4 separate regions of the Homo sapiens genome follow, and all the other regions are linked to region 1. Evidence: fine-mapped expression QTL. A gene starts in region 1. Each other region holds a variant in brackets. All regions are shown on one strand. Distances are from middle to middle.

The links. PIP is the estimated chance that this variant, and not a neighbour inherited with it, causes the effect. A credible set is the group of variants that fine-mapping cannot tell apart.
Region 2: its variant is the best candidate, but not a certain one, in a credible set for the expression of TTLL12 in whole blood (INTERVAL, PIP 0.86).
Region 3: its variant is the best candidate, but not a certain one, in a credible set for the expression of TTLL12 in sun-exposed skin (GTEx, PIP 0.83).
Region 4: its variant is the best candidate, but not a certain one, in a credible set for the expression of TTLL12 in whole blood (TOPMed, PIP 0.76).

The regions. Positions count from the first base shown.
Region 1 is chr22:43,184,121-43,190,459 of GRCh38, forward strand. TTLL12 (tubulin tyrosine ligase like 12) reads right to left here and starts at 3,014. Exons shown (of 14, transcript NM_015140.4): 1 at 2,773-3,014. The coding sequence starts at 2,949. RefSeq lists enhancers at 1,665-2,169, 2,110-2,189, 2,200-2,259 and silencers at 2,640-2,859, 2,900-3,059, 3,308-3,427.
Region 2 is chr22:43,159,830-43,166,064 of GRCh38, forward strand. It overlaps TSPO (translocator protein), which reads left to right. Exons shown (of 4, transcript NM_000714.6): 3 at 1,223-1,361; 4 at 2,974-3,413. The coding sequence ends at 3,162. Among named protein-coding and RNA genes, the nearest start is that of TSPO, 11 kb to the left of the region's middle. RefSeq lists enhancers at 3,217-3,720, 3,721-4,223. The variant G/A (reference allele first, on the strand shown) is at 3,137.
Region 3 is chr22:43,205,692-43,213,368 of GRCh38, forward strand. SCUBE1 (signal peptide, CUB domain and EGF like domain containing 1) reads right to left here. Exons shown (of 22, transcript NM_173050.5): 17 at 6,734-6,901; 18 at 5,231-5,392; 19 at 4,352-4,549; 20 at 2,381-2,533; 21 at 1,843-1,922. SCUBE1-AS2 (SCUBE1 antisense RNA 2) reads left to right here and starts at 6,983. Exons shown (of 2, transcript NR_134632.1): 1 at 6,983-7,006; 2 at 7,464-7,677. The variant C/T (reference allele first, on the strand shown) is at 4,072.
Region 4 is chr22:43,214,418-43,222,094 of GRCh38, forward strand. It overlaps SCUBE1 (signal peptide, CUB domain and EGF like domain containing 1), which reads right to left. Exons shown (of 22, transcript NM_173050.5): 13 at 6,756-6,872; 14 at 6,033-6,170; 15 at 3,838-4,041. Among named protein-coding and RNA genes, the nearest start is that of SCUBE1-AS2, 5.6 kb to the left of the region's middle. RefSeq lists an enhancer at 5,830-6,331. The variant G/A (reference allele first, on the strand shown) is at 2,877.

The sequences.
Region 1 (6,339 bases):
CTTTCAGGACACTGATGGAATGAAATCAAACAGCGTGCATAAAGTCCTGGCGCACAGTGGAGGCTCAACAAAGGCCAGTTCCTCCCTAAAACGTATTTCCCACTACTCGATTAAAAACGGCAGTTGGAAACTAGCTAAGTACTCAGGTGCAGGCAGCTTTTGTGCACTGGGCAGGACTTGCCCTTTGGTGGCGTGAGGATGAATCACTCAAGGTCTCGCTCAGGAAGCTCAGGCTGAGTAAGGTCTAGGCCACCTAAGAGTATCAGGTAAATTGCTCTGGGGCCTGGAGGGCCTGGGAAGACTTTATGGATGAGGAACCATAACCAGAGGCCAGCTTTGAAGAAGGGGAAGATTTAAACATGAGGCTACGGGGTGAGGATGGAAAGGAACTCCACGCAGAGGGAAGAGTAAGAGCGAAGGCCTGGAGGCAGATAGCCCAGGGTGGAGCAAACCAGGGGTCACATGAGAGACAAGGCACCTGAGACAAGAGCCATCCAGTTCTCCTTTAGCCCTCAAGGTGGGTCTGGGGAGGCTACTGCCTTCTCCAGTTTAGGGCTGGGGGGAGGCTCAGAGGGCTGGAATCCAGACCTCGGGCTTCCGCCCCAGTACTCCAAATCCCTAGGGGACAGCGTGAGGCTGAGGGTCAGAGAGCCTGTCTCAAGCCTGGCCTGGATTCAACCCAGCTGTGAAATGGGGTGCTGGGTTTCTCCTTCACCACAACCCCTTCATGGCAGGACTGGAAGAGCTCCCCAGGAGATAAGGGGAGTGGTTTTGCAACTGGGAAGCTTGTGCAGACAGAAGAGTAGACATTTTAAAAACATCTCTTCGGCCGGCCGTGGCGGCTCACGTCTGTAATCCCAACACTTCGGGAGGCCAAAGCGGGCGGATCACGAGGTCAGGAATTCGAGATCAGCCTGACCAACATGGTGAAGCCCCATCTCTACTAAAAATACAAAAATTAGCTGGGTGTGGTGGCGCACGTCTGTAATCCCAGCTACTCGGGAGGCTGAGGCAGGAGAATCATTTGAACCCGGGAGGCAGAGCTTGCAGTGAGCCGAGATCATGCCACTGCACTCCAGCCTGTGTGACAGAGCAAGACTCCGTCTCAATTAAAAAAAGAAAAAAATTATATATATATATATATATATATATATATATATATATATATATATATATATATGTATGTATCTTCAAGTTTCCCCATCCTTTCCAGGGCAGCCGGCCTAAGGTGAGGCAGGAGGGCTGATGGCCAGGGGTGTAAGGGCCCACAGCGCTGGCAGGTGCTGCTGCTGCTGGCGGCCTCCTCCACACCTGGGCCAGTAGCAGCAGGAGGCTTCACTCAGGAAGAGCTGCAAGTTTGTGAATGGTAAAGCAGTGATTCAGCTCTGTCCTTAACGGCTGGGGAAGGGTCACGGAAAAACACTGGCTGCCCCTTAGTAGGGCAACAGCAGGCAAGGCGGCCTGGGCAGGGGACGTGGCACGGTGGCGACCACCCTCTGTGTGCCAGGCATATTTCTCATGCCACCTCCCATCCTTCCAATACTGTGGGAGCCAGATGGTGTCTCACCATCCCCTTCCCAGATGGAGAACAGGTCTCAGACGGGCGAGTGACCGCCCGAGGGAGGGCGTGCTGCCGTGGAGGCTGGCTGGGCAGGAGCTGGTCATTCCCACTGTGCTCCTTCCACGCAGCCCATGGGAACCTTTTTGTCCTCATGAACAAACCAAGGTCCCTTCCACCCAGCACAGGCCTGGGACCAGAGTGGTCCTCGGAAAGCATATGGCAGAAGTGAGGGGCAGAGGAAACTCTCTGTTACACTGTAGCATAAGGAGGTGCCACTCACTGCACGTTTCCAGCAGGAAGGTTCCTAGTCCAATCAGGATTACACAGAGAAAAACTGGCTCAGAGACCGTAGAGTCTGGCCAGCAGCCAGGCTCAGGGACTCCTAGTTCCCGGCCCGGGTCCCTGTTCTTGGCTCTGGGGTTTCCACTTCATCACCTGCGCCACTAGGCTCATCTCCGTCCGGGAGACAGCACCTGGAGGAGATGTCGGGTCCCAGCTAAAGAAAACACCCCCCCCCCCGCCAGCCCGGGAAGGTGCTGTGGCCTCAGCCTCTGGGCACGCAATAAAAATCCAGGGCTCATCCCCAGCCAGGACAGTGGGGAACGCTTTGGAGTGGAGGAGGCAGGTGAGCCGGATGGGCCGTCCTCACAAAAAGGGAGAGAACCTAGAGGCTTCTCAATCTTTTCCATTTTTCTTTAGATTTCTCCTCCACCTCTCACAGCCTGTTTTCTTTAACCTGCAAGATGAGGGGACCCCGAGGCTCAAATCAAATGAAAAAACACCGAATTCTGTGAACCCAACAGTTACAGCTACACAAATTCACGGGGTTCCCGTTGTCCCTGTGAGGCAGCGGCTGAAAGAATCCCTCTGAAGGGACTCTCGGAGCCGCAGTGTTCTCATCTGTGAAGTGGGGGTGATGAGTTTCACTCCTCGCAGGGCTGTGTCAGGCTCGGGTGTGTGGAGGACCTAAAGTTCCCAACGCAGCCCTCAGCCGGTCTCGGGCCCGGGCAGATCAGGGCCGCAGGTACCCCGGTCTCCTGCTGTCACTCTTCGGCCCCCAACTCCACGCCGCTCCAGAGCTGCCCAGGACGCGCTCTGGGTGGCTCACCGCGGCTCCCGCCGCCCGGGAGCGCTCTTCCCTGTCCCGCGCCGCGGGCTCCCGCCGCGCTCCCACCCCGGCCGCCGCACGTGCCCGCCGCCCTTCCCCGCACCTCGTGCTCCAGCTTGTGCAGGAGGCGGCCCCAGTAACGTTCGGGGACCCCCGAAGCGCGCAGCGCCGGGCCGTGCAGCGCCGCGAACTCGGCCAAGGCCTGCGCGCCCTCCTCCGGCGTCTGGCCCGGGCTGCTACGCTCCGCAGGCCGGCGCTCGGGACCCCGCTCGGCCTCCATGGCGCCAGCACCCGCGCCGACTCCAGCGCCGCCACCGCCGCCGCCGCCCGCCGTCCGTCGGCCCTGCCCTCCCGCCTCCGCCCCCTGCCCCGCCCCGCCCTCCTCCCAGCGCCCCCCCCCCCGCCCCGCCCTCCTCCCAGCCCCCCCCCGCCCCGCCCTCCTCCCAGCCCCCCCCCGCCCCGCCCTCCTCCCAGCCCCCCCCGCCTCCGCCCCCCGCCCCGCCCGCCTCCCAGCACCCCCGCCCCGTCCTCCTCCCAGCCCCCCGCCCACCGCCCCGTCCTCCCCCCAGCCCCCCGCCCCTGCCGCGCCCCCTGCCCCCGCCCCCTGCCCCCCTCCCCACCGCCCCGTCCTCCTCCCGGCCCCCCCGACCCCTCCCCTGCCCCGCCCTCTTCTCGCCCCCTCACCCCGTCCCGCCCCGCCCCCAGTCCGCCTCCAGCCCGGTTTGCCGCGGCCCCCGGGCAGGCCCTGCGCATCGGCGGGGTGCGTGCGAGAGCGCGCGAGCTTGCCAGGAGGGGGCGCGCGTCTGCGACCGCGCCTGTGGTTTGGCTGCCGCCGTGTGCGCACGCGCACCTGATGGTGGCTGAGCTTTTCTCGCTCAGCGCGCGGCGACCCCGGGGAATGCCGGGAGGGCGGGGTGCCTACGTATAGGGCGCTGTCAGGACCGGAAAAGGCCCCACCGACGGCCCGGAAGGTGTCCTGGGGCCCGAACCCGGTGAGGCGGCGCTTCTGTGCCTGCACCGGGCACACAGAGCTCGCAGGCCCCCTGCCTTGGGAGCTCTCGATTCTTGTGAGCGTTTCACCAGATTTGGATGCTGCAAAATCGTGGCCCTTCTCAATTACTTATATTTGGATTCGGAATGTCAGTTGATCCAATTAAGACCAAGTGTACCCGTCAGAGGAATTTACTCCTACATGTCGGGATGTTTCGAAGTGCAGTTGAGCTGGGCGTGGTGGCCGCGTCTGTAGTCCCAGTTACTCGGGAGGCTGAGGCGGGAGGATAGCTTGAGCCCAAGAATTCAAGTCCAGCCTCGGCAACATAGCCAGACTCCCTCTTTAAAAGAAAACAGTTCAGTTATAGAATTTCAAAAGACATTCTCTTTTGAACTCTCATTGAGTTTTATTGCTCCATAGGGATACATTTCAATGTCTTCCTTTTTGCAATTTTGTAAGAATTGTAATTTGCTAAAAAACAAAGGCTGAAAATTTTTTGGAGCTTCAGATGCTATTTTGATAACATTTTTGAACTGAGTTTGAATAAAATGCACCAATTCACGGACTTGTTCAATTCCATTGTAGGAAGCAGGTGGGTCTGCAAAGGCAAAAATTTCCAAACTCAAGTTGGTGAGGGCTGCAGAGAAAAACATTTTATTTATTTATTTATTTTGGGATGGAGTTTTGCTCTTGTTGCCCAGGCTGGAGTGCAATGGTGCAGTCTCGGTTCACTGCAACCTCTGCCTCCCGGGTTCAAGTGATTCTCCTGCCTCAGCCTCCCAAGTAGCTGGGGCTACAGGTGTGTGCCACCACGCCTGGCTAATTTTTTGTATTCAGTAGAGACAGGGTTTCACCATGGCCAGAGGAAAACCCTGATTCCTCGGTTTTTGTTGTGGAAGCCAAGGCTGAGATTGTACCATTGCACTCCAACCTGGTCAACATAGCGAGACTCCATCTCAAAATAAATAATATAGTAAAACAGCATCACAATGCTAGGATGGGGCATGCTGGCTCACACCTGTAATTCCAGCACTTTGGGAGGCCAAGACAGGAGGATCACTTGAAATAAGGAGTTTGAGACCAGGCTGGGCAACAAAGCAAGACCTCGACCCTACAAAAAGAAATTTTTAATTAGCCAGGTATAGTGGTACACACCTAGTGCACCTCCCGCTTCCACAACCCTTCCATCGGTCCCGCTGGGGAAGACAGACTGAGTCTCAGTTGTGTCAGGTACTGGTCAGATTATGTGAACATTCCTGACCCAGCCCCTTTGACCAGGAGAATGTGAGGCTCTGACAGGGCAGTCCTCTTTCACATGCTCCTCCCCAAATGTAAACCCAGTTGTATCAGATCCCTACTTGGAACCCTTTGTGGTTCAACTCTTCACCTGAGCTCCAAGGCTCTGTGTGAGCTGGCACTGCCAACTTTTCCAGCCTCTTTTCATTACACTCTTCCCCTCACACTGTGAGTCCCTGTATCTCTGGTTGTCTTCAGCTCCTGGAAAGCATTGTGCTCTGTTTTCTGCCAGAAAGCCTTTCTCCCCATGCTCACTTTGTAAATCCTGACTCATTCTTCTCAGCTGAAATGTTGTCTTCTAAAGAGGCACTGAAGAATGTGTATTTAATCAACATAAAATTACTGCTCTGCTCCCATTACTGCCACCAACCCCCTCCCCCTCCAGACAATTGAAAAAAAGGAGAGAGAGAAACAGGGAAAAAAAAAAGAGTTTAAAAGTCCCTTCCATAGCCGGGCACAGTGGCTCATGCCTGTAATCCTAGCACTTTGGGAGGCCAAGGCGGGTGGATCACCTGAGATCAGGAGTTCGAAACCAGGTTGACCAACATGGTGAAACCCCATCTCTACTAAAAATACAAAATTTAGCCGAGCATGGTGGTGGGCACCTACAATCCCAGCTACTCAGGAGGCTGAGGCAGGAGAATTGCTTGAACCCAGGGGTGGGGGTATGGAGGTTGCAGTGAGCCAAGATCGCATCAACTCACTCCAGCCTGGGGGAAACTCCGTCTAAAAATAAAAAAGGCCCTTCCATCCTGAAAATCCAAGCCCAGGTTGACCTTTGGTCCCTGATAGCTTTTTGTTCTGAGAGCTTTGCCAAGGGTACTCATACAAAATGGGTTTTTCATACAACATGGAGCCTAAACCCAATACAATGACTTTGTGAAAGTTGATCATAAGAATTGGGTCACCAGGCGTGGTTGCTCACCCCTGTAATCTCAGCACTTTGGGAGGCCGAGGTGGGTAGATCACTAGGTCAGGAGTTCAAGACCAGCCTGGCCAAGATGGTGAAACCCCCGTCTCTGCTAAAACTACAAAAATTAGCCTTGGTGCGGTGCCTGTAACCCCAGCTACTTGGAAGGCTGAGGCAGGAGAATTGCTTGATCCCTGGTGGCAGAGGTTTCAGTGAGCCGAGATCGTACCACTGCACTCCAGCCTGGGCCACAGAGTGAGACTCCAACTCACAAAAAAAAAAAAAAAAAAAAAAAATTGGGTCATTCTTGTCATAATTAAAACAGAGTTGAGAAGCCAAGAGGGAAAAAGCATTTGGGGTGCAAGGCATTGTTCCCAAAATGTAATTCTCTGTAAGCCCGACTGCTGAAACTGCTTGTGGTAACCTAAAACCATTTATTGATAACTTCTGAGATAACTGACTGCAACTCTAGG
Region 2 (6,235 bases), 24 kb before region 1:
TCCCAAGGACACAGGGCTTGCAAGTGTGGACCCCCCACAGCCCCTTCAGGCTCAGTCTGGCCTGAGTCCCCTGGGAATAGACCAGGGGAATTCCACCCGGAAAGGACGTGCTGGGAGGGGCAGGGCGCCTCTTGGTGGCTGTAGCGGGGACCACACCCAGGAGGCAGGGAATTGACTGCCTTCTGAAATGTTCCCTGCATCCTGGTTCTGTGCCAGCGCAGTGCAGGGTGGGGACGCAGGTGCCAGGCACTCTAGGGGGCGGATAGCAGAGGCCAGGCCAGGTGCCCGGCTCTGATGGGAATAAGGCCCTGGAACTTGGGTGTCACGTGGGCCTCACCCCTCCTGGCCCAGGCCCTGCCCAGCCAGGGTCCTGCACTTCCCTGGCTCCAGTGTCCCCACCCTGCTTGGCCTTCCTACACCACCCAGTCCCAGCCTCTCTTCGGGGGAAATTTTGGGGCTCCCTGTGGCTCTGGATAAGGCGAACCCCTCATTAGTAGGTGACAGCCGGGGCTCTGGCCCTGGCTGACCAGACTTTATCCACTGATGGCCTGCCAAGAGATCTCAGTCACTTCACCGCCTCAGTCTCCTCACTGTAAAGGGGGTGCTGATACTGCCTGCCTTATGGCATCATCATGAGACTGAAATGAGTGAATGCTTGGGAAGTGGTAGGGCCTGGCTCCTGTGAGTGCTGGAGGGCATCGGCTGCTGTTACTGGTGGTGTTATCGTTGCCCTGTGTTAACAGCTCCCATGATCAGGCCTCCCCCTGGACCTCACCCTGCAGTCACAGACTGACTCAGGGTCTCACATCTGCCTCAAAGCCTTTGCATGTCCTGTTTCCTCCCCTGGAAAACTCCTATTCATCATTTAAGGCCCAGGCCAAATGTCCCATCCTCTATGCAGTGCCCTGGCTAGGTTAAGAGCCTCCTCTCTACCTATTCACACCATGTGCTTCCCTTTCATAGCAGTGACAGTGATAATAATGGCAGGTATTTACTGAGTGTCCTAAATGCTGGGTATCGCATGAAGCACTGCCAATGTGCTAACTAGAATCTCTACAGCAACCCTATGAAAAATGAAGGCCCAGACAGGTCAAGCAACTTCCCTGAGATCACACAGCAGTCAGTGTCAGGTCACGTATGAACCATCACTGTGCCACTCGGAGGTGGGCAACGCTCCTGGCCTTGTTCCTAATGGTGCTCTGAACTGCGGCCTCTGTTTCAGGTACGGCTCCTACCTGGTCTGGAAAGAGCTGGGAGGCTTCACAGAGAAGGCTGTGGTTCCCCTGGGCCTCTACACTGGGCAGCTGGCCCTGAACTGGGCATGGCCCCCCATCTTCTTTGGTGCCCGACAAATGGGCTGGGTAAGTGTGGCCACAGCATGTGTCCCTGATCCCTGGATCCGACCCTTGGAGGACGTGGGGCATCACATATGACACTGGGTCAGTGTCTATAGGCGGGGCCAGGGGAGACAAAAGGCCATGTCTCTCTAGCTGTAAGCAGCCCACACCCTGGAGCCTCCCCTCTACTGACTCCTCCGGTGAGGGAAGCTATTAAAGCAGAAGGGGTTGCAGGGGTGGGTTTGGGGGCCACTGTGTAGGAAAACCCACACGAAGCCTGGTACTGTGTGGGCAGGGTCACTGGCCCCTCTACATAACAGCTTCTTCTTTTTTTTTTTTGAGACAGAGTCTCACTCTCTCACCCAGGCTGGAGTGCAGTGGTGAGATCTCGGCCCACTGCAACCTCCACCTCCTGGGTTCAAGTGATTCCCTTGCCTCAGCCTCCCGAGTAGCTGGGACTACAGGTGTGCACCACCACTCCTGGCTAATTTTTGTATTTGTATTTGTATTTTTTTAGTAGAGATGGGGTTTCACTATGTTGGCCAGGCTGGTCTTGAACTCCTGACCTCAGGTGATCTACCCGCCTTGGCCTCTCAAAGTGCTGGGATTACAGGTGTAAGCCACCGCGCCCGGCTGACTGCTTCTTTTTTAAAGTTTTAAACTTTTTTAAGAGATGAAGACTCGCTGTGTTGCCCAGGGCAGACTCGACTTCCTGGGCTCAAACGATTGATTCTCCCGCCTTTACCTCTTGAGTAGCTGGGACTCCAGGTCACGTCACTGTGCCCGGCAGCCTTTTTTTTTTGAGACAGAGTCTTACTCTGTTGCCCAGGCTGGAGTGCAGTGGCATGATCTCGGCTCACTGCAGACTCCACCTCCCAGGTTCAAGTGATTCTCCTGTCTCAGCCTCCCGAGTAGCTGGGATTACAGGCATGCAGCACCATGTCCAGCTAATTTTCTGTATTTTTTTTTTTTTGAGACGGAGTCTCGCTCTGTTGCCCAGGCTGGAGTGCAGTGGCGTGATCTCAGCTCACTGCAACCTCCGTCTCCCAGGTTCAAGCAATTCTCCTGCCTCAGCCTCCTGAGTAGCTGGGACTACAGGCACGTGCTACCACGCCTGGCTAATTTTTTTATTTTTAGTAGAGACGGGGTTTTACCATATTGGTCAGGTTGGTCTTGAACTCCTGACCTCAGGTGATCCACCCGTCTCAGCCTCCCAAAGTGCTGGGATTACAGGCGTGAGCCACTGCACCTGACAAATAGCAAGTTTTTGTTTGGGCCTTGTAGTAATGCTGGGAGGTCAGCATCGCTCTCAGTGGAGGCTCTAAGCTCAGAGAGGGGAAGGGACGTGCAAGACCTCCTAAGCCACCACCGCACCCTTGAACAAACCGAGTTCACTTCAGGCATGTCATGTGCACCCCACACAAGGCATGGGTCAGGTGGCATGACTGTTCCCATTTTACAGATGAGGAAACTGAGGCTGCGATGGGGGAGGGGCTTGGCCAGGTCACTCAAGGGTGGAGTGGGGGTGAGTGAGGCTCCTGACTCCCAAATCCAGTGGGAGTTGGGCAGTGGGACAGGCACTTGGGTGAACGCGGTGCCTCAGGCCTCCCCATCCTCCGTCCCCCAATCTCTGCAGGCCTTGGTGGATCTCCTGCTGGTCAGTGGGGCGGCGGCAGCCACTACCGTGGCCTGGTACCAGGTGAGCCCGCTGGCCGCCCGCCTGCTCTACCCCTACCTGGCCTGGCTGGCCTTCACGACCACACTCAACTACTGCGTATGGCGGGACAACCATGGCTGGC[G/A]TGGGGGACGGCGGCTGCCAGAGTGAGTGCCCGGCCCACCAGGGACTGCAGCTGCACCAGCAGGTGCCATCACGCTTGTGATGTGGTGGCCGTCACGCTTTCATGACCACTGGGCCTGCTAGTCTGTCAGGGCCTTGGCCCAGGGGTCAGCAGAGCTTCAGAGGTGGCCCCACCTGAGCCCCCACCCGGGAGCAGTGTCCTGTGCTTTCTGCATGCTTAGAGCATGTTCTTGGAACATGGAATTTTATAAGCTGAATAAAGTTTTTGACTTCCTTTACCATGGCCTTTTTGCTTGGGTGGGACCCCTGGCCACAGGGAAGAGGGGGAGCTGGGGCTGCACTGGAGCTCGTCTCTGCAGGATCTGCCTGGGCTGCCTTCTCCAGACAGGGCTGGATCCAGCTGGGGCTGCCCCACGCTTCCTGGGACGCTCCCGAAGCCCTGCAGGAGATGAACAGAGCAGCCCTGGGTGCCACCCTGGGGCCCACACTGGCGCAGACCCAGCTGGGGCCGTGGGCTTCAGCAGAGGGAGGGGGTCCTGTCCGCTTCCCATGGCTTCCGGGATGCTCAGCCCGGGCCCTTTAATGGCCGGGCCCACAACCACTGTTCGACGCCTGGTCCTGCCCAGTGCGTGGCCCTCAGCTGCTTTTACCCAGGACAGAGTTGGGGGTGCTGACTGCCCTGTCCCCCGGGGGCCCAGGCTTATGGCAGCCTCACTGCACCAGGGATAGCCCCGCAAACACCCAGTTGGCTCGAGGGGGAGTCAGAGGCAGGAAAGGTTAGGTCCCGACTCCAGCAGACAGGGCCTCCTTGCTGGCCCAGAGCGGCCAGGATTGGAGGTGTCACAGCCACTCACTCCCTCACCCCGGCTTCGAACTGGGTGACCCATGGCCTCTCCAGGCAGCTGTTTGGAGTAAATGAGCCGAGTCCCATACGCAGCACTCCTCCGTCTTGCTCTCGGTCACCACACCCATGCAGCACTCAGCAACACAGCCCGCGGCTCCCTCCCCTCGGCCAGGCCTGACCTGCCGGGCTTTTTGTTTTTTGTTTTTGGCAGCTAAGTTCATTCAAATTGGCAAAATGTTCATAGACAGCTCGTCATCACTCAACAGCCCGCGGCTGCTGCTTCCTCTTTTCTCCCCCGGCTCCTGTGTCCTCTCCCGACCTGTACGCTCAGACACAACCTGACGTTCACAAAAGCTTGGACACAGTGGCTCACACCTGTAATCCCAGCACTTTGGGAGGCTGAGGCGGGAGGATTGCTTGAGGCCAGGTGTTTGAGACCAGCCTGGGCAACATAGGGAGACTCTTGTCTATACCATCCACTCTGGTGCACGCACAACACACACACACACACACACACACACACACACACACACGAAAGAACGAACAGCTCAGGGAAATGGGTAGACAGTCGACTGCATTCTTCTGACAGAAGGGATGGCTCCCGCCCAGGGGCTGCGCTACTCCACCCTGACCCTCAGCCTCCCGCTCCCTTGACTCTGGCAGAGTTTGATGCCCAACAGATCACGCTCTGCAGGATCCAAAAACTCTGCGGCCACGGGCACTCAGCTGAGCCCTCAGCCCTCATGGCTTTCCCGATGCTCACCGGTGCAGAGGAGCCAGCTGGGGAGCCTCTGTGTATCCTTTTTATTAACTTATTTCTGAAGTTCTCCAAGACGCCCAGAGTTGAATTCCTCCAGAGCTCTGTGCAGACAGTCCAAGCAGCGGATGGCAGAGAGGTCCTTGCTAGCAAGAAACTTACAGGCCAGGCTGTCTCCTGCTCCAGCATGCCGGTGAGCATGCACCGTCCCCGCAGGGCACAGGGGTATCCTTTGAAGTGTCAAGGGACACCTGAGTCCGTGCCAGACACTTAGGGATTGGAGAAAGTGCAACCCAGACTTCTGCCATCTCCGCAACTCGTGGGGTTGTTCATCTGTAACAAATGTCCCACATAGCTCCTGCTGGCCACAAAACACGCACTGCCACAAAACGCCTTGGAAAAATGGGCGAGAGGAGAACGCATTTAGCATTTCGTCTGCCGGCTTCCTTTTAACAGCCTGGCGACGTTTCCCCAGGAAATGCTCGTAACAGACAGCATTCTCTCCTTTTCTAAGCTGCTGTCATCCACTGGGAACTTAAGGTTTTGATGCTTTCTGAGTGGGTTTATTTATTATTTTTTTTTGAGACAGTCTTGCTCTATCGCCCAGGCTGGAGTGCAGTGACGCCATCTTGGCTCACTGCAACCTCTGCCTCCCAGGTTCAAGTGATTCTCCTGCCTCAGCTTCCAGAGTAGCTGGGATTACAGGTGTGTACCACCATGCCTGGCTAATTTTTGTATTTTTAGTAGGATGGGATTTCAACACATTGGGCAGCCTGGTCTCCAACTCCTGACCTCAAGTGATCCGCTCGCCTCAGCCTCCCACAGTGCTGGGATTACAGGCGTGAGCCACTGTGCCTGGTCAATTCCGGCTTTGGATGGCTTCTTAACACAGTGATGAGGGTGCAAATGAGTACCAGGAAGAAGTATTTAGTGGGATAAACATCTCCCGGCAACTGCCTCAGCACCTGGAGCCGGCTGGTCTTCCGGCTCATGAAGTCCCTGGCTCTTGGCCTTCCTTGGGGGTGTCCATTTGCAGTGAGCAGAGGTGCAAGGACATGTGGGGACAGAGAATAGCCATCTACAATCATGGAAAGCCTGGACCATGTGGTCTTGATTCTGGGGGCTGTCCCAGCTGCTCCCTGGGCAGGACTATCTCCTGGGCACCAGGTTTTAAGTGAGCTGGGAACTAGTGAGAGCACCAGCTGTTAAGCTTCTGGACAGAGTCCGTGTGAGCATCAGTCCTGAGACCTGCCCTGGAAGGGAGGCTAAGGAGAGAAGCAGCACAGTCCACAGGCAGCCTGCCTCAGGGCCGCTCTGCCTTCCGCTTTTTTTTTTTTTTTTTTTTTGAGACGGAGTCTCACTCTGTCGTCAGGCTGGAGTGCAGTGGTGTGATCTTGGCTCACTGCAACCCCCGCCTCCTGGGTTCAAGCGTTTCTCCTGTCTCAGCCTCCTGAGTAGCTGGGACTACAGGCGCGCACCACCATACCCGGCTAATGTTT
Region 3 (7,677 bases), 22 kb after region 1:
CACACACACCACCCACTCACCACACACTCACCCCCACACACACCACACGCCCACTCACCACTCACCCACACACACACCACCCACTCACCACACACTCACCCCCACACACACCACACACCCACTCACCACTCACCCCCACACACACCACACACCCACTCACCACTCACCCCCACACACACCACACCCACCACACACCCCTCACCACAAACACCCCCACCCCCACTCACCACACACACCCCTATATACACACCACACACCCACTCACCACACTCACCCCACCTCTATTCACACCTCCACCCCCACTCATCACACACCCTATATACATACCACACACCCACTCACCACACACTCACCCCCACACACACCACACACCCTCACCTCCATCGACCATACACACCCCCATACACACCACACATCCACCACACCCCCACCCACTACACACACCGCCTCCATTCACCACACACCCCCCCAAACACACCACACACCCACCACACCCCCACTCACTACACCCCACACACACCCACTCAACACACACCCCTACACACCCAGCACACACACCCCTACATACCCCTACATACACACTATACACACCCACTCAACACACACCCCTACACACACACCACAGTCACCACACACACTGAACACCTCCAAACTCACCACACATGCCTCCACAAACACACCACACAGCACACTCCCCCACCCCCCGCACACACACACGCGTGCCCTGAACCCACACCCTGGAGACAGATGCTCCTGCCCTCCTCTGTGCTGTGGGGGCAGGGACTAAATATTCACAGAACAAACCTAAAGTGAGTGCTGGTGGGCGCCAGGAAGGAGGGGCACGCGGGACCTAAGGGGCTGCAAAGGGTGTGCCCAGGTCAGGGGGTCCGGGCAGGCCGCCCAGAGTACGACAGGATGTCCCAGCTGAGGGCGGAAGGATGGGGGGAAAGAGGTGGGGGAAAGAAGGGGCCGAGAGGCTCTGGTGCGTGTGAGGAGCTGGGAGCTGCTGTGGAGGAGGATGGCCCTCCGGCTGAGGTTTGTGTCCCCAGAGCAGTGTCAGGATGCTTCCAGTTTGGGAGCGATGCTCCCAGGGCGGAGCTGGGGGGACAGAGATTGCGGGGAGAGAGCCCAGGACGCATCCCTGGTTTCTGCCTAAGCAGCTTGAGGAGGAAATCAGGAGCCGAGGGCGGCAGCACGTGACTGGCAGACTATGGGGAGACTCAAGTGAATCTTCCCGAACTCTGCAAACCATCCTTTTCTCAGAAGAAGTGACAGCGGGAGCGTTCCAGCCCTGCCCTTGTCCTCCACACCCCGGGGCTCCTGGGCTGACAGTGCTGCTGCCCAGGGCTGAGCTGGGTGAGTCCTGGGTCCCCAGGCCTCTGGCCAGTACCCACCATGTGACACACCAGGCGGCCCTGCCTCTCCAGGCTGGAAGCAGGAAGAGGAGGGAGCCTAGTCCCAGCGGCAGGGGGGCTCCAAGTGACAATGGCACTGGGTAGATCCCACTGATTCTGAGACATCCCCCAGAATACCCTCATTCTACAGATGAGGAGAGTGAGGCTGTGAGCTGGTGAGGAATGTGCCTGAGGCCACATCACCAGGTCCTGGTCCCCAAGTCCTCACCAAACAGCTTCCCTCAGGCCTCCTGGTCTGGAGGAACAGATGTGCAGGACCCAGTCCCCACCATTAGGGCTCTGGGACCCCCAAGCCTCCTGCTCCTCTCCCATCACCACCCACCCTCCCTTGCTCCTCCAGGGGCCAGGGCTGGGGCAGGGGCGGTCCTGGCTCATCACAGGCCCCATCCCAGGGTTACGTGGATTCCCTTCCAATAAACTCACTCACTTTCAAAATTTCCTGGTGGTTCTCCGAGGCGTACAGGCGCCCATCGCGCACGATGTCCTCTATGAGTTGCTGGTAGTCCTCTGGGCAGCGGGTCAGCAGGGGGAGAGGAAGGCGAGGGGCTTGAGGCCCACGTGCTCCCCTTTCACCTCCAGCCTCTGCCCTCCCTCCTGTGCTCCAGCCACGGGCTCTGGGCTATGGCTGGCCGCAGCTCTGCCTCTGTGCCTTTGAACCTGGGGCTCCCTGCACCTGTATTGTCCTCCTCGGGGTTTCACTAAGAACCCCCTATTTAGCCCTCAAAACCCTGCTTGGGCAGCACCTCAGCTGAAGCCTGCAGAGGCCACTAACCGCTGTCTTGCCTGTACCACCCGGTACCACCCTCAGCCTGTCTGGCTCTGGCCCCTGACAGTGTTCGTTCTGCTTCCAGGTCTGTACCTGCCAGGTCGCAGCTCCCTGAGGGCGGGGACGTGCGACTCATCTCTGTGTCTCCAGGGCCCCGCCTGAGCCGTGCACAGTGGGCCGTGAAGACAGTGGATCTTACCATCGTAGGTGACATAGGGCACTTGGAAGCCTTTGCCGCTGTTGCCTTCATTGGATTTGAACTGGATCCAGAGCTTGCGGGAGCGGGAGGTGAAGGCGATGGGCCTCTCGTAGGTCTGGCAGGTCTCATAGGTGGTGATGGACGTGGGAGAGGCTGCGGGTGAAGCATCATTGCTGAGCTGCCACAGGTAGGCAGCTCCTCCTGCCCTAGGCCACTCGCCTCCCATCCAGTCCACCACCCAGCACCTGCACCGAACGCCTGGTCCCCCAAACACAACGGCTTAGTCTTTGTGCTTGCTCCCTCTGCCTCTGAGGCCCTTCCCTACCCTCAACCCGGGTTCTTACTTGTCCTTCTGAGACCCATCTCTGTCCCCTCTTCCAGGAAGCCTCCCTGACTCTCCCCCCATCCCCTCCCAAGATCTTGCTCTGCTCTGGTGAACCCCTTATCACAGGCCCCTCTGTCAGTGGGTCTCCATCTCCCTCCAGCTAACTGCTCCTCGGTGACAGGGCTCAGGCCTGCACTTGGTGCAAGGCCAGGGTGGGAGTGGAAGCTGGGGGAGGACGTGGGAGATGAACTGGCACTGACTGCTGGGACCAGAGGCACAGACTTGGGAAGTCCCTTCTCCCCGAGAGCAAATACACCAGCAAGGCCCACTGAGCCCTGATCTCCCGAGGAGGAAATCAGGAGCCGAGTGCGGCAGCGTGGGTACAGCATGTGACCGGCAGGTGAATCTTCCCAAACTCTGCAAACCATCCTTTTCTCAGACACGGTGACAGTGGGAGCACCCCAGCCCTGCCCAGCCTCTCCCCGCTTAAGGGCTCCTTGGCAAGGCCTCACGGCTCCCTGGGGGCCTTCCCGAGGAGCCCTTCATGGGGGACAGGCTGGGCTTCACTTCAGCTCAGGCTTGTGGTGGGGGACAGAAGGAGGGGATGCTGGGGGCAGGGGAACGGGTGAGGGGAACGGGTGGGGAATGTGGTCCCAGGCCGGTCCCTTGCCCATCCGCACACTGCGGCTTTTGGCTGCTCAGCTGCGTCAGCCTTGCTGACATCCGTCTACTCATTAGCTATGCTGAGCAACTCCTGCCCAGGATAACGCAACTCTGGAGGAGCAGCCCTGGCGCAGACCTCAGGCCCCTCCCCACCCCCTCATCTGGCCGGTCTCTGTGGTCACTGGGTACCCAGAGATGTTCTCTGGCCAGCGTCTGTGGGTGTCTGGGTTCCTGCTCTTCCTTCCCTAACACTCAGACATGGAGCTCGCTCACATGGGCACCCACAGCCCGACAGCAGCGAGGTGCCCTGGACAGGTGCGCTGCAGGTATTTGGCTGGTGCTCGGGTGGCTCAGGGGCCTCCCAGGCATTCCTGCTGCTGTGGCCAGCTGGGCACACAGCGGTCACACCCACTGCTGAGTCCAGTCCTCTCTCATGCCATTCCATCCTTCACTCCCTAAAGTCTCAAGAGGAGCCCTGACGGGGGCGGATGAGCCAGGAGTCCAGGGCTCACAGAGGGGTGGGGAGGGCTCTCTGAGCTGTTATCTTGTGTGGTGCATGGGACGGCCGTGTGGTCCCCCAAACCTCAGCGGGCGGGAGGAGACCCATGGAGCTGGAGCCTGAGGTCTCGCCCTGAGCGGTGCGGCAGAAAGTGGTGGCAAGGGGCCCTGCGGCTGGTCCCGCCACTGGGATGAGGGCCCGGCT[C/T]GTGGCCGGAGTTGAGACCAGGCCTGACCATGTCCCAGCATCCACTCTCGGAATACCCTAAGCTCTCCAGATCTTTCCACAGAACTCTGTAAAGCCAGCTCTTAGACCCAAGTGGGTTTCAACCCTGCCTCCCAGGTGGACTCTGAGGGGCTGGTCCTCTGAGCCCCAGGGCCCTCCTCTCTGCCCTGTGAAGGCAGCGATCCCGCCTGGCAGAACCGCAGCGAGACGGGGGTGCACACGCAGCTGAGGCTGCCTCTGGTCCCCTCGGCCCCCAACATACCACTCTTCCTCATGACCAGAACATCGCCGCACTCATCCTCGATGGGCAGGAAGATCTCAGGGACCACGATGAGGATCCTGCGCTTTGGGGGAGGCGCGATGTGCCAGACGCATTCAGCGTTGGCTGGGTAGTCGCCAGGGTAGTTGGGGGACTCGATGTAGCCGGTGTAGTCACCAAGCTCGCCGCCGCAGTGCTGGTCTGTGGGCACAGTGGCCCGAGGGCCTCATCAGGCTCTGCTGGGCAGGGGCCCTGGCCGGCCAGGCCTCTAACCACCTGGGAGGCCTAGGGCAGGGCTGGAAGGTGCTCTTGTCCCCCCCCACACTAGCCCTCGGACCCTGAGCCCATCCTCCTTGGGGACCCTGCCTGGGCTGCCCCCAGAGCAGGAGGGCAGGTCCCCTGTTCAGGCCTGTGGTTCCCTGAGGCCCAGCCTGGGGGCTTCTTCTTACTGGGCTGCCATGCCTGCAGGCCCACCCTATTTCTCTGTGGCTGGGCCTTGTCAGGGGCACTGAGAGGGCCTGGAGCCCTGCTCTCTCTAGAGGCCCTGTCAGTGCCCCTGTAGGCTGTCAGCCCCCCCAGCAGACCCAGAAACTAGAGCAGGGCCTGGCCCAGGGCAGAGGCTTGGGCTGTGTTGGGTGAGCAGTGGGAACTGATGAACGATGGCCACCACTGTGGGCTCCGTAGAGTGGGCCAAGCCAGGGCTGCCCCTTTGGTGCCACAGGCCTCCAGATGGATGCAATGCACCCGAGAGCAGACGGGACGGAGCGGGAGGAGTCCAGTGTCCTCGTGGAGCTCGTGTGAGATCAGGTCTCCTCCCGCCCCCACAACCTGCCCAGCCCCTCCCGTGTTCCCAGCTTCCCACGGCAGAGCAGCAGCACCCACTTTTGCAGTGTGTGACGTTGGTGGAGCCATCGAAGTCTGTGCTGGTGTTGCCCGGACAGGTGATGCAGTGGTTCTGGCCAAACTCGGGCTGGTAGGTGCCGACGGGGCAGCGGATGCAGCGGTGGGTGGTGGTGTTGTAGTGGTGGCCGGGGGAGCAGTGCACTGCCGGGGGACACAAGGCAGTGTGGTGGGTGTGGAGGGGTGCAGGGAAAGGGCAGCACTGGGGTGCTGTCCCCAGGACCTCTCATGCCCTCGAGGTCTGTTTTGGCACAGAGTTCAAGGCTCCTCCCCACCGCCCCATGACCTCCCACCACCCTCACTCCGCCATGGCCAGGAAGAGCCCTTGGCGTGGGGGTCACATGGCAGATTGATGTGATGTTGGCTCCAGCAAAACAGGGACCACACAGGCCACCTTGATGGGAGCCATTTTCAGGGAGAGCGGGGGCGATGATGTGGCCGGAGGCGTGCGGGGGAGACAGGGAGGAGGGGAAGTGGAGCCAGCTAGGCCAAACCCTCTTTCTACAAGGTTGCTGGGGCAGGAGAGACAGGCGGCCGGAGTCTGAGGGGTGCCGGGGCGGGGGGCTAGAGATGGGCAATTCTTTTTTTTTTTTTTTGAGATGGAGCTCGCTCCGTCACCCAGGCTGGAGTGCAATGGTGCCATCTCGGCTCACTGCAACCTCCACCTCCTGGGTTCAAGCGATCCTCCCCTCCCAGTCTCCCGAGTAGCTGGGATTACAGGTGCACATCACCACACCCGGCTAATTATTTTTGTATTTTTTTTAAGTAGAGACAGGGTTTTGCCATGCTAGCCGGGCTGGCCTCAAACTTCTGACCTCAGGTGATCCACCCCCTTTGGCCTCCCAAAGTGCTGGGATTATAGGTGTGTGCCACCGCACCTGGCTTCTTTTTTTAAATGGGCAAATTCAGAACAGTTTGTATGTGCAGGGGAGTATCTGGTGATGTGGCTGGCTCCAGGGGGCTGAGAGCCAGGCCACCTGGACAGACAGACAGACACTGAGAGGGAGCACGGTGGGGAAGCAGGGTCAGCAGCTGAGAATGGGGAGGATTTGGGGGAGTTGGTGAGTGAGGGAAGACGGGATGTAGACCTGGGTGGGACCAGATGCCCTGAACAGACAGCAGTTGAGGTGATGCCCTGATCCCGCTCCTGCCCCCACACTCCTGCCCCCACACTCCTGCCCCCTCCTCACCCTCCCAACCTCCCTTCTAGATGCTGCTCAAGGCCTCCTGTCCCCAGAGCCCTCCCCAGTGCTCCGAGGAGCTGCTGTTCCCCCTGGAGCTCAGAAAGCTCTCAGCTATAAGGTGTCCCTGTCCTAATGCGGGGCACAGTGGGTCACCCACGCCCACGCCTGACAGCTCCAGGCTCCTCCTCTGAGCTGGGAGGTTCGCCACATGGAGGAGATGAGAGGGGTTCGGGGAAGCCTCTCGGAGCAGTGCAGCCCTGCCTCTCGGGGTGGGCGGGCGTGGTGGGGAGGGCATGCTCACCTTTAGCCTCGCAGTCCTGGAAGGAGGTGGTGCCTTCGTGTTTGGTGAGCAAACCCCCTCCACAGGGGAAGCAGCCGGTGCGCCCGGGCTCAGGCTGGTACGTGCCCACGGGGCAGGCCTGGCAGGGCTTGAAGCCATCGGCCGAGAAGAAGCCTGGAGAACACTGGCCTGAAAGTCAGAGGTCATGGCTCAGGCGGGCAGGAGGGCACCGCAGGGCCGAGGCTGTGGGTGGTCTCAGGCCCCGCTCTTGGCCCTTGCCCGGCCCTGGAAAAGGTACTGGGCACCCGAGGCCTGGGGTGGGGACGGGGTGGGGAAAACGCAGCAGCCGGGGTGCAGGAAGCTGGGCCCTGGTCCGGATGATGCCAGCGGTTCATGTGCGGCCTTGGTCAAGCCTGGCTCTCCTTCTCCCACCAGCAAGAAGGCCTGGGGGTTGAAGAGCAAGAGGCCTTGCTGCTGAGCTGGGAAGGGGACCCACAGGTGGAGGGGCAGGTCACGTGTCTCAGAGGGGCTGTCCCCGGGGGGTAGGCTGCACCGGGGTCTCCGCAGAAGGAGCACCTGCTCAGCTTCAGGGTGACGCTGCCTGGTCTACCAGCAGGGCCAGGCCAGAGCAGAGGGAGGCGGGTCTGGGGAGGGTTTCTGAGGTACTCAAGGGCACCCCTGGGACAAAGGGAGGGGACCACAGGAAAGCCAATTTCAGCTCCGAGTAAAGAATGTTCTTGCGTTCCAGCAGACTCAGGATGCAGAGAGTATTCTGGCATTGAGTGAGAGGCGGGTTTAGCACCCTCTCAGCCCAGACCCTGGGATTCTCAGCTTCTACCCAAACACGGAATCTCCTACCAGTGGCCACTCCCCCAGGGGTGGAGACCACACTCCTGGAGTGGGCGTGGGCCAGAGAGCAGCCGGCAGCCTGGACGGACTCAGGGCTGGGCTCTGAGCCCTTCCAT
Region 4 (7,677 bases), 31 kb after region 1:
CCAGGAGGCAGCCATCTGTGAGGGCCATGAAGCCTGGCCCCTCTGGCTGCTGCACCTCAGAGTCCTCTGTGGACCCCTCCATCTCCACCCGCTTATAGAAGCCTGTGGTCCCCACCTCCCCCATACGTCTGTCCTCTGTCTGCTCCACACCCTGCCCTCCAGCTTTAGCAAACTGCCTCCTGGATGTCGCCACTTGGATATGCTACAGTCATTTCACCCCGAAGCTCCCCTGTCCTTCCTGAGTGGAGGAGTTAGGGGCAGTGGGGAGGGACTGGGGCTCAAATAGGCAAGGGCAGGAGGGCCTGGCGGGCGAGGTGGGAGGGGCGTAGCGAGGAGATGATGGGCTGAAGACAGCGCAGTCTGGTTGGCTACACTGAACAAATACGTCGACTGATGAGTAAGTAAGGAAACTGAGTAAATCAGTAAATTCAGGAGAAAGGGAGCCGAGTTTCTCAGTGCTGGAGAAGATGCTTACAAATGCGGAAATGGGGAGTGAAGGTTAGAAAAGACCCTGAGGTGTGGAACGGGAGGCACTGGCATGAATTCATGGTTTTAGAACCCCCCCACCCATAGATTCCCATGCCTGTGTGTGCACGTGTATACACATCTATGCTTTCCAGTTCTGTCCGATGAGAGGGCCTAGAGGCAGTGGTACTCCAGGAGCAATGAATATCCCAGATTTTGGTTTCTACCCATCATCCTCCTCTCAAAGGAACCAGGGGTCCTTGGGGATTTGGCTGATGCCAGGGGATGGAGAGTGTCAGTTGGATCTGAAGGGGAGGCTCGCAGCATGTGTGTGGCAGGTCAGACAGACCCAAGAGCCAGCTTGGTGGGGCATCCCTGGCTACCCTGGGGACACAGTGAGCGCCGAACTAAATAACATCAGGAATGGATCACCACGCAATGAGTAAGGGGAATCTGAGTCTATAGGGATACAGACCCAGAGGTAAACGGCCATGGCCACCCACTTTCCTACAGGAGAATGTGACTAGTGAGCGTGGAACATGGAACAAATGGTAGAGGTGGCTGACATGGCGGGAGCTGTGCAGAAGTTTGATGAGGAGGAGAATATTGGTCCAAACTCAGAAAACACTCATCAATCACAGAGAGAAAATGGCGAGTGAAAGTGAAGCCAGTGGCGGGCTGGGGGTATCCTGTGCCTGCTGATGGGGCACCCAGGATTAGGCCTCGAAGCTGAGGTTCCTGCTGGACCCTGGGCCCTGAGTCAGGTCCCCAGGAAAAACCAGAGGGAGCTCTGAGCGTTAGCCTAGAGGAGGTGAGTTTGGGACAAGGGCAGGAGAGGCAGGGAAAGGGGAGAAGCGGCTCCAGACTGAAGGAGCCTGAAGACACAGTGGAGGGTGACATGTCTTTCTGGATGGGAGCTGGGACCAGAAAAACAAAAGGGACATTGTTGGAAGGATTGCTGGAGCTGAATGGGGTGGGTGTGTGGGTTGGATGGTGAAGACTACACACTCACACATGCATGCACACTCACACACATGCACACGTGTGGGAGACGGGGCAGATGTGGTCAAATGTGCACAATTGGGGAATTTGGATGAAGAAAATATGGAAGTTTTTTGTTCTGCTTGACAATGTTTCTGAAACTTTGAAATAATTTCAAAATAAGTTATTTATTTTTATTTTGGGATGGAGTCTCGCTCTGTCACCCAGGCTGGAGTGCAGTGGTGTGATCTCAGCTCACTGCAACCTCTGCCTCCCAGGTTCAAGTGACTCTCCTGTCTCAGCCTCCCCAGTAGCTAGGATTGCAGGCGCTCGCCACCACACCCAGCTAATTTTTGTATTTTTAGTAGAGACGGGGTTTCACCATGTTGGCCAGGCTGGTCTCAAACTCCTGACCTCAGGTGATCCACCTGTCTCGGCCTCCCAAAGTGCTGGGATTACAGGCGTGAGCTACCATGCCCGGCCCAAAATAAGTTATTGAAAGTAGAAGAGGCTGGGCGCAGTGGCTCACACCCATAATCCCAGCACTTTGGGAGGCCGAGGTGGGCAGATCATGAGGTCAGGAGTTTGAGACCAGCCTGGCCAACATAGTGAAACCCTGTCTCTACTAAAAATACAAAAATTAGCCGGACACGGTGGCGCGCACCTGTAGTCCTAGCTACTTGGGAGGCTGAGGCAGTAGAATAGGTTGAACCTGGGAGGCAGAGTTGCGGTGAGCTGAGATTACACCATTGCACTGCAGCCTGGCTACAGAGCGAGACTCTGTCTCAAAAATAAAAACAAACAAACAAAAAAAGAAAGTAGAAGATGACATCACCAAGCTCCCTTTGTCCCCCCTTGTCAGTACGGCTGTCCCCCTCCACTGTCTGAGCCAGAGTCCCAGCTTCCCCAACCTGGCCCTTCCCCTGCCAGGTGTCATCTCTTTACCAACAGCTTCCCCGCCCTCTCCAGGTGTCACCTCTTTATCAACAACTTCCCCCCACCCACCCCCCGCCAGGTGTCATCTCTTTACCAACAGCTTCCCTCCCACCCCCACTGCCAGGTGTCACCTCTTTTCCAACAGCTTCCCCCAACACTGCCGTCACCTCTTCTCTAACAGCTTCCCCCCACCCCGCCAGGTGTCACCTCTTTACCAACAGCTTCCCCACCCCGCCAGGTGTCACCTCTTTACCAACAGCTTCCCCACCCTGCCAGGTGTCACCTCTTTACCAACAGCTTCCCCCAACCCCCACCCCCCATCCGCCAGGTGTCACCTCTTCTCCAACAGCTTCCCTCCTCCCCCGCCAGGTATCATTTCTTCTCCTCCGGCTTCCCAGTTTACACCCCTGGCCAACCCTATTGTTTGAGGCTTCGGACTTGTGGCTGCAACTGCCCATCCAACATCTCCATGTGGATGACTTGTGAGCGTCTCA[G/A]ACTGAACATGTCCAGCCTGCGCACCCCATCCCCGCAGCCCACTCTTCATCAAGTTTCCCTCCCCCCAGCCCACTCTTCCTCAAATCCTTGGGGATTTGGCCGGCGTCAGGAAGCGATACCACCTCTGCCCAATTGGCCAAACCCTTGGAGTCGTCCTTGAAGTCTGTCTCTCCCTAGGAGCCCCCTCCATCTCATGCTCCTCCCCGTCCTTGCTCCGCCCCCGCTACTCAGCCTTCCCGTAAGAGCGCGCATGAGCCTGCGTCCTTGCTCTAAGCATTCCTATGGCTCCCCATCCAACTCAAGAGTGGTGTCTGCCAGGCCCCATCACCTCTGGCCTCACTGTACCTGTGGGCATGTTCACTGGCCCACTGTCCATCTTCCGCACGGGCATGTGAGCTCCACTAGAACTAGGACTGTCTCGTGTGCTGGTTCTGCCTGTCCTGCGTCCAGGCTCTCCCCTCCAGCGCACACCCGCCCGCTGGGGGCCGGCCTCACCTGCTTCCCTGCAGCACGACGCTGCCCTCCTGGGCGGCCCTAGGCCTCACGACATCCCTGCTCTGTCCCCCGACCCTGACTCAGGCTCCCCAACTCCTGGAGCCCTGAGGTCTTAGCTAACGTGACTTCTCCTCCAGGAAGCTTCCCTGAACCACATCCCAGACTAGAGAGGGCCTGTTCTGGTTCCCGTGCCCCCTCGCGCCCCTCGACTGTGGCCTTGCTGTCCTGTCCACTCCTTGTCCCTCCTCAGACTGTGATCACATGCCCGAGGCCCAGCACAGAGGAGTGCTCTTCAAATGACAGTGATGACCATGAGGGCTGCAGTCCTTCTCCCCGGCAGGCCTCTGCATCTCTCTGTCCCCTCCCCAGGTGTCTGTCTCACCTGCGTGCCCACCACTGTTTACCCCGGCTCATGTGCAAGGAAGGACAGAGTCAGCATCTGAGTGGCCATGGGCAAGGACTCACCGCATTTGCTGTCCTGTAGCACCTGGCCTGCGCCACATGCCCCCTGCCCCTCCAGCGCCTTGGCTGGCCTCTGGGCTACCTCGTACTCAGTGCCTGAGACCTGGACATAGAACTGCTGCCGGCCGATGGACTTGCGCAGGGTCTTGATGGCGGCCTGCAGGCTCTGTTCTGCTCGCTTCCGCAAGCAGTCCGCTTCGCATGTGTCTGCAGGGGCAGGAGAGACAGAACATGAATCGCTGGCAACCTTGCTAGCCGCTGCCTTCTTAGCTGAGGGCTCCCCCGTGCCAGGCCCTGCACTGGGCTCGGACCTCCTCAGCACATTCTCACAACAGTCCTGGGGCAAGGGGCCACTGTCATGCCCATCTGACAGATGAGGAGGCTGCGGACCTGGGAGGCAGGGCCTGCCCACGGCCACGCAGCAGATCTGAGTGCAATCCAGGCAGCTGCCACTGCACCACATCACCCCCCAGGGTACGACTCACGGGGCAAGAACGCCTTTCTGTCACTCAAAGACTCTTGGGGACTGCCACTGTCCCCAGGATAGTGTCCAGCTCTCTGGCCTTGAATCCAAGGCCCTTCAAGGTCCAGCCCCGTATGGCCTTGCCAGCCTCATCCCCTCCACTCTGACACTCCCTGTGGATTCCAATGTCTAGCCACCTGGCCCTACTTACTGCTTCCTGGACACCTCCTCCTCTCTCTGACCTCTGTGCCTTTGCCTATTCTATTCCCTCTGCCTGAATGCCATTCCTTGCCACCTTTTCCACCCAGTGAGCTTTGATTCTAAGCTCTCATTCAAATGGCACCTCTTCTGGGAAAGCTTCCTGATATGGTTTCAATATTTGTCTCTTCCAAACCTCATGTTGAAATCTGATCCCTAATGCTGGGGGTGGGGCCTGGTGGGAGGTGTCTGGGTCATGGGGTAGGTCCCTCATGAATGGCCTGGTGTGGTAGTCAGTTCTTGCTGGCTCTACTAGTCGCCACGAGATGTGACTGGTGAAGACATAGGCACCCCCTCCCCTCTCTCTTGCTCCCTTACTCTTGCTATGTGATGCCAGCTGCTCTTCACCTTCCTCCGTGAGCAGAAGCAGCCTAAGGCCTCGCCAGGCAGATGCTGCTGCCGTGTTCTCGGACAGCCTGCAGAGCCGAGAGCCAATAAGCTCTTTTCCTGATAAATTATGCAGCCTCAGGTGTTCCTTTTAGCAACGCAAATAGACTAAAACATTTCCTTTTTTTTTTTTTGAGATAGAGTCTCACTCGTCGCCAGGCTGGAGCACAGTGGCGCGATCTCAGCTCACTGCAATCTCTGCCTCCCAGGTTCAAGCGATTCTCCTGCCTCAGCCTCCTGAGTAGCTGGGATTACAGGTGCCTGCCACCACACCTGGCTAATTTTTGTATTTTTAGTAGAGACAGGGTTTCACCATGTTGGCCAGGCTGGTCTTGAACTCCTGAACTCAAGTGATCCACCCACTTTGGCCCTCCCAGACTGCTGGGATTACAGGCGTGAGCCAGTGTGCCCAGCCAGACTAAGACATTTCCTAAGCCCTCCCGTGGGGGGCAGACCTCAGTTCTATGCATTGTTTGTTCTTGTGCCCCCACCACCGAGAGTCCCACCTGGCAATGGGTGGTTTGCACGTGCGTCTGCCTCTCTGGCTGAGAGTGTTACCTGGGTGGGGACTTTTCTTTCCACAGCGCCCAAGCCCACAGCCAGGCCCATACCACACTTATCTGCTGACAGATCCCATCTCTTCAACATCAACGACTCACAGGTTGACACTCACATATAGCCAAGAGCAAAGTGCTGCTGTGACACCCGAGCCAGCATTAGAACCTCCTTCAGGAACCAGGAAAGACAATCCTTGGCTCAACCATTCTAGGGGGGCTGCACCTATTTGTCCTCCCGGGTCCCAGCAGGAGTGTGGAGGGGCAGATAAGGGTCATGTGACTTTTGAGGTCACCTCGGCTCTTCTGTCTCATTGCCCTGGGCTGCCTCTTCTATCCTGGGCTGCAAGCGTTGACCCCTGCCAGCTCCCTTTGCTTGTGGGCCTGCCTCTGTCTCCAGAAGCTGGGCTCCCATCCCAGCCACAGCTGTGCTCTGGTGGGAGCCTAGCTTCATGCCTGGCAGGCCCCCGGCAGCGCCACCAGCCTGTCGTCCTCCTTCAGGCCTGCAGAAGCCCCCAGGAGAACCCCTCACCTACCTGAGGCCTCTTCCATCTTTGTCTCGATCTCAAACTCTGCTGTGATGTGGGACACCTCCTTGGATGGGGACTTGCGGCCACGGCGCCTCTTCTTGGAGGAGTCACACTTGAGGGTCACGAAAGTCACATGGCAGTGGTCTGGACGAGGAAAGGACCACTGTGGCAAAGGCGGCATGGGGCAGGGAGCAAGGTCCTACCAAGCCCTGCATACAGAGTGCCATTGGCAAGGACTTCCTGGTCCGTGGTGCAGACGGAAAAACTCAGGCTAGAGAAGGTCAGGGCTGGCTCGGGGTCTCAGGAGGGGCTGGTGGCTGAGCCAGGTCTCACGCCCGGTCCATCACGCTGCTGCAGGTGGAGGCATCTCATACATATTCATGAATGAGGCTGTGCCCCCAGCTCTGGGCCTGCTGAGGGTTTGGCCAGTGCAGACTCGGCTCTGGGCAGAGCCTGCTGCGTGCTGAGAGCTCTGTTAGGTTTGAGAAGGAATCTTCACGGGGACAGAGCTGGTGCCTTCCTCCGGGGCCCCTCGTACCAAGCTTGCCCTCCGCTGTTTCCCCAGCCTGCAATGTCCTTGGAAACTCTCATTCAATAAACAGCTGCCAGGTGAGAGAGACCTCCACCCTTGGAAACCAGACTCGCTGGACCCTGGGGCCCCAGCTCCCAGGCATGAGGACTCTCCTACAGCCCCGTTGGTGTGGGTTAGGAGCAGGGCGTCCCACTCACCCAGCAGCGGCTGCCTGGCGGTCTCCTTTGCTCGTGCCTGGCTGTGGGGCCGGAGGTGGCACTTGGCATCTCGGATCTTGAAGCGGGCCTTCTGTTTGATGGGGGTGGTGGGGGCATCTGGGGAAAGCCAAAATTCCCCCAGGTGGTGGCCTCTCCTGCAGGCAAGGAGGTGGTGGGGGACGGGGGCTGCCAGGGGACAAATCCATCTGGAGCTGGGGGTGGGGCTTGATCTGAGTCCCTGTGCCCCGACAGCTCTCCTGGGGTGGGGGACCCTCTCCTGCCCCATTTCTCTCCCTGCAAGGCCTAAAACAGGTGAACACATGGATGGTGGGGTCAAGCTCAAGCCCAGGGGCCACCCGCCAGAGGTCTTCTGAGAAGGAGGACAGGGATCCTCCTACCTCCTCCCCATCAGCAAGCCATGATTGTGCTTTAGGAAAGAGCGTAGAACAGAAGAGAGATAGGACAGCAAGGAAGGGAAGGGGCTTTGAAATACTATAGATCCAGGACTGCCGGTTCCTTGCAAGAGCAAATCATAGCCCTTGGACTAAAGAATCCTACCACCACAGGTGCTTAGAATCAAATCACATATGCATTAAATATATAGAAATGGGCAGGGTGCGGTGGCTCACGCCTGTAATCCTAGCACTCTGGGAGGCCGAGGCAGGCGGATCACTTGAGGTCAGGAGTTCCAGACTAGCCTGACCAACATGGTGAAACCATGTCTCTACTAAAAATACAAAAATTAGCCAGGTGTGGTGATGGGCACCTGTAATCCCAGCTACTCAGGAGGCTGAGGCAGGAGAATTGCTTGAACCTGGGAGGCGGAGGTTGCAGTGAGCCGAGATCACGCCACTGCACTCCAGCCTGGGTGACAGAGCGAGACTCCGTTTTAAAAATAATAATAATAATAATAAAGAAACAT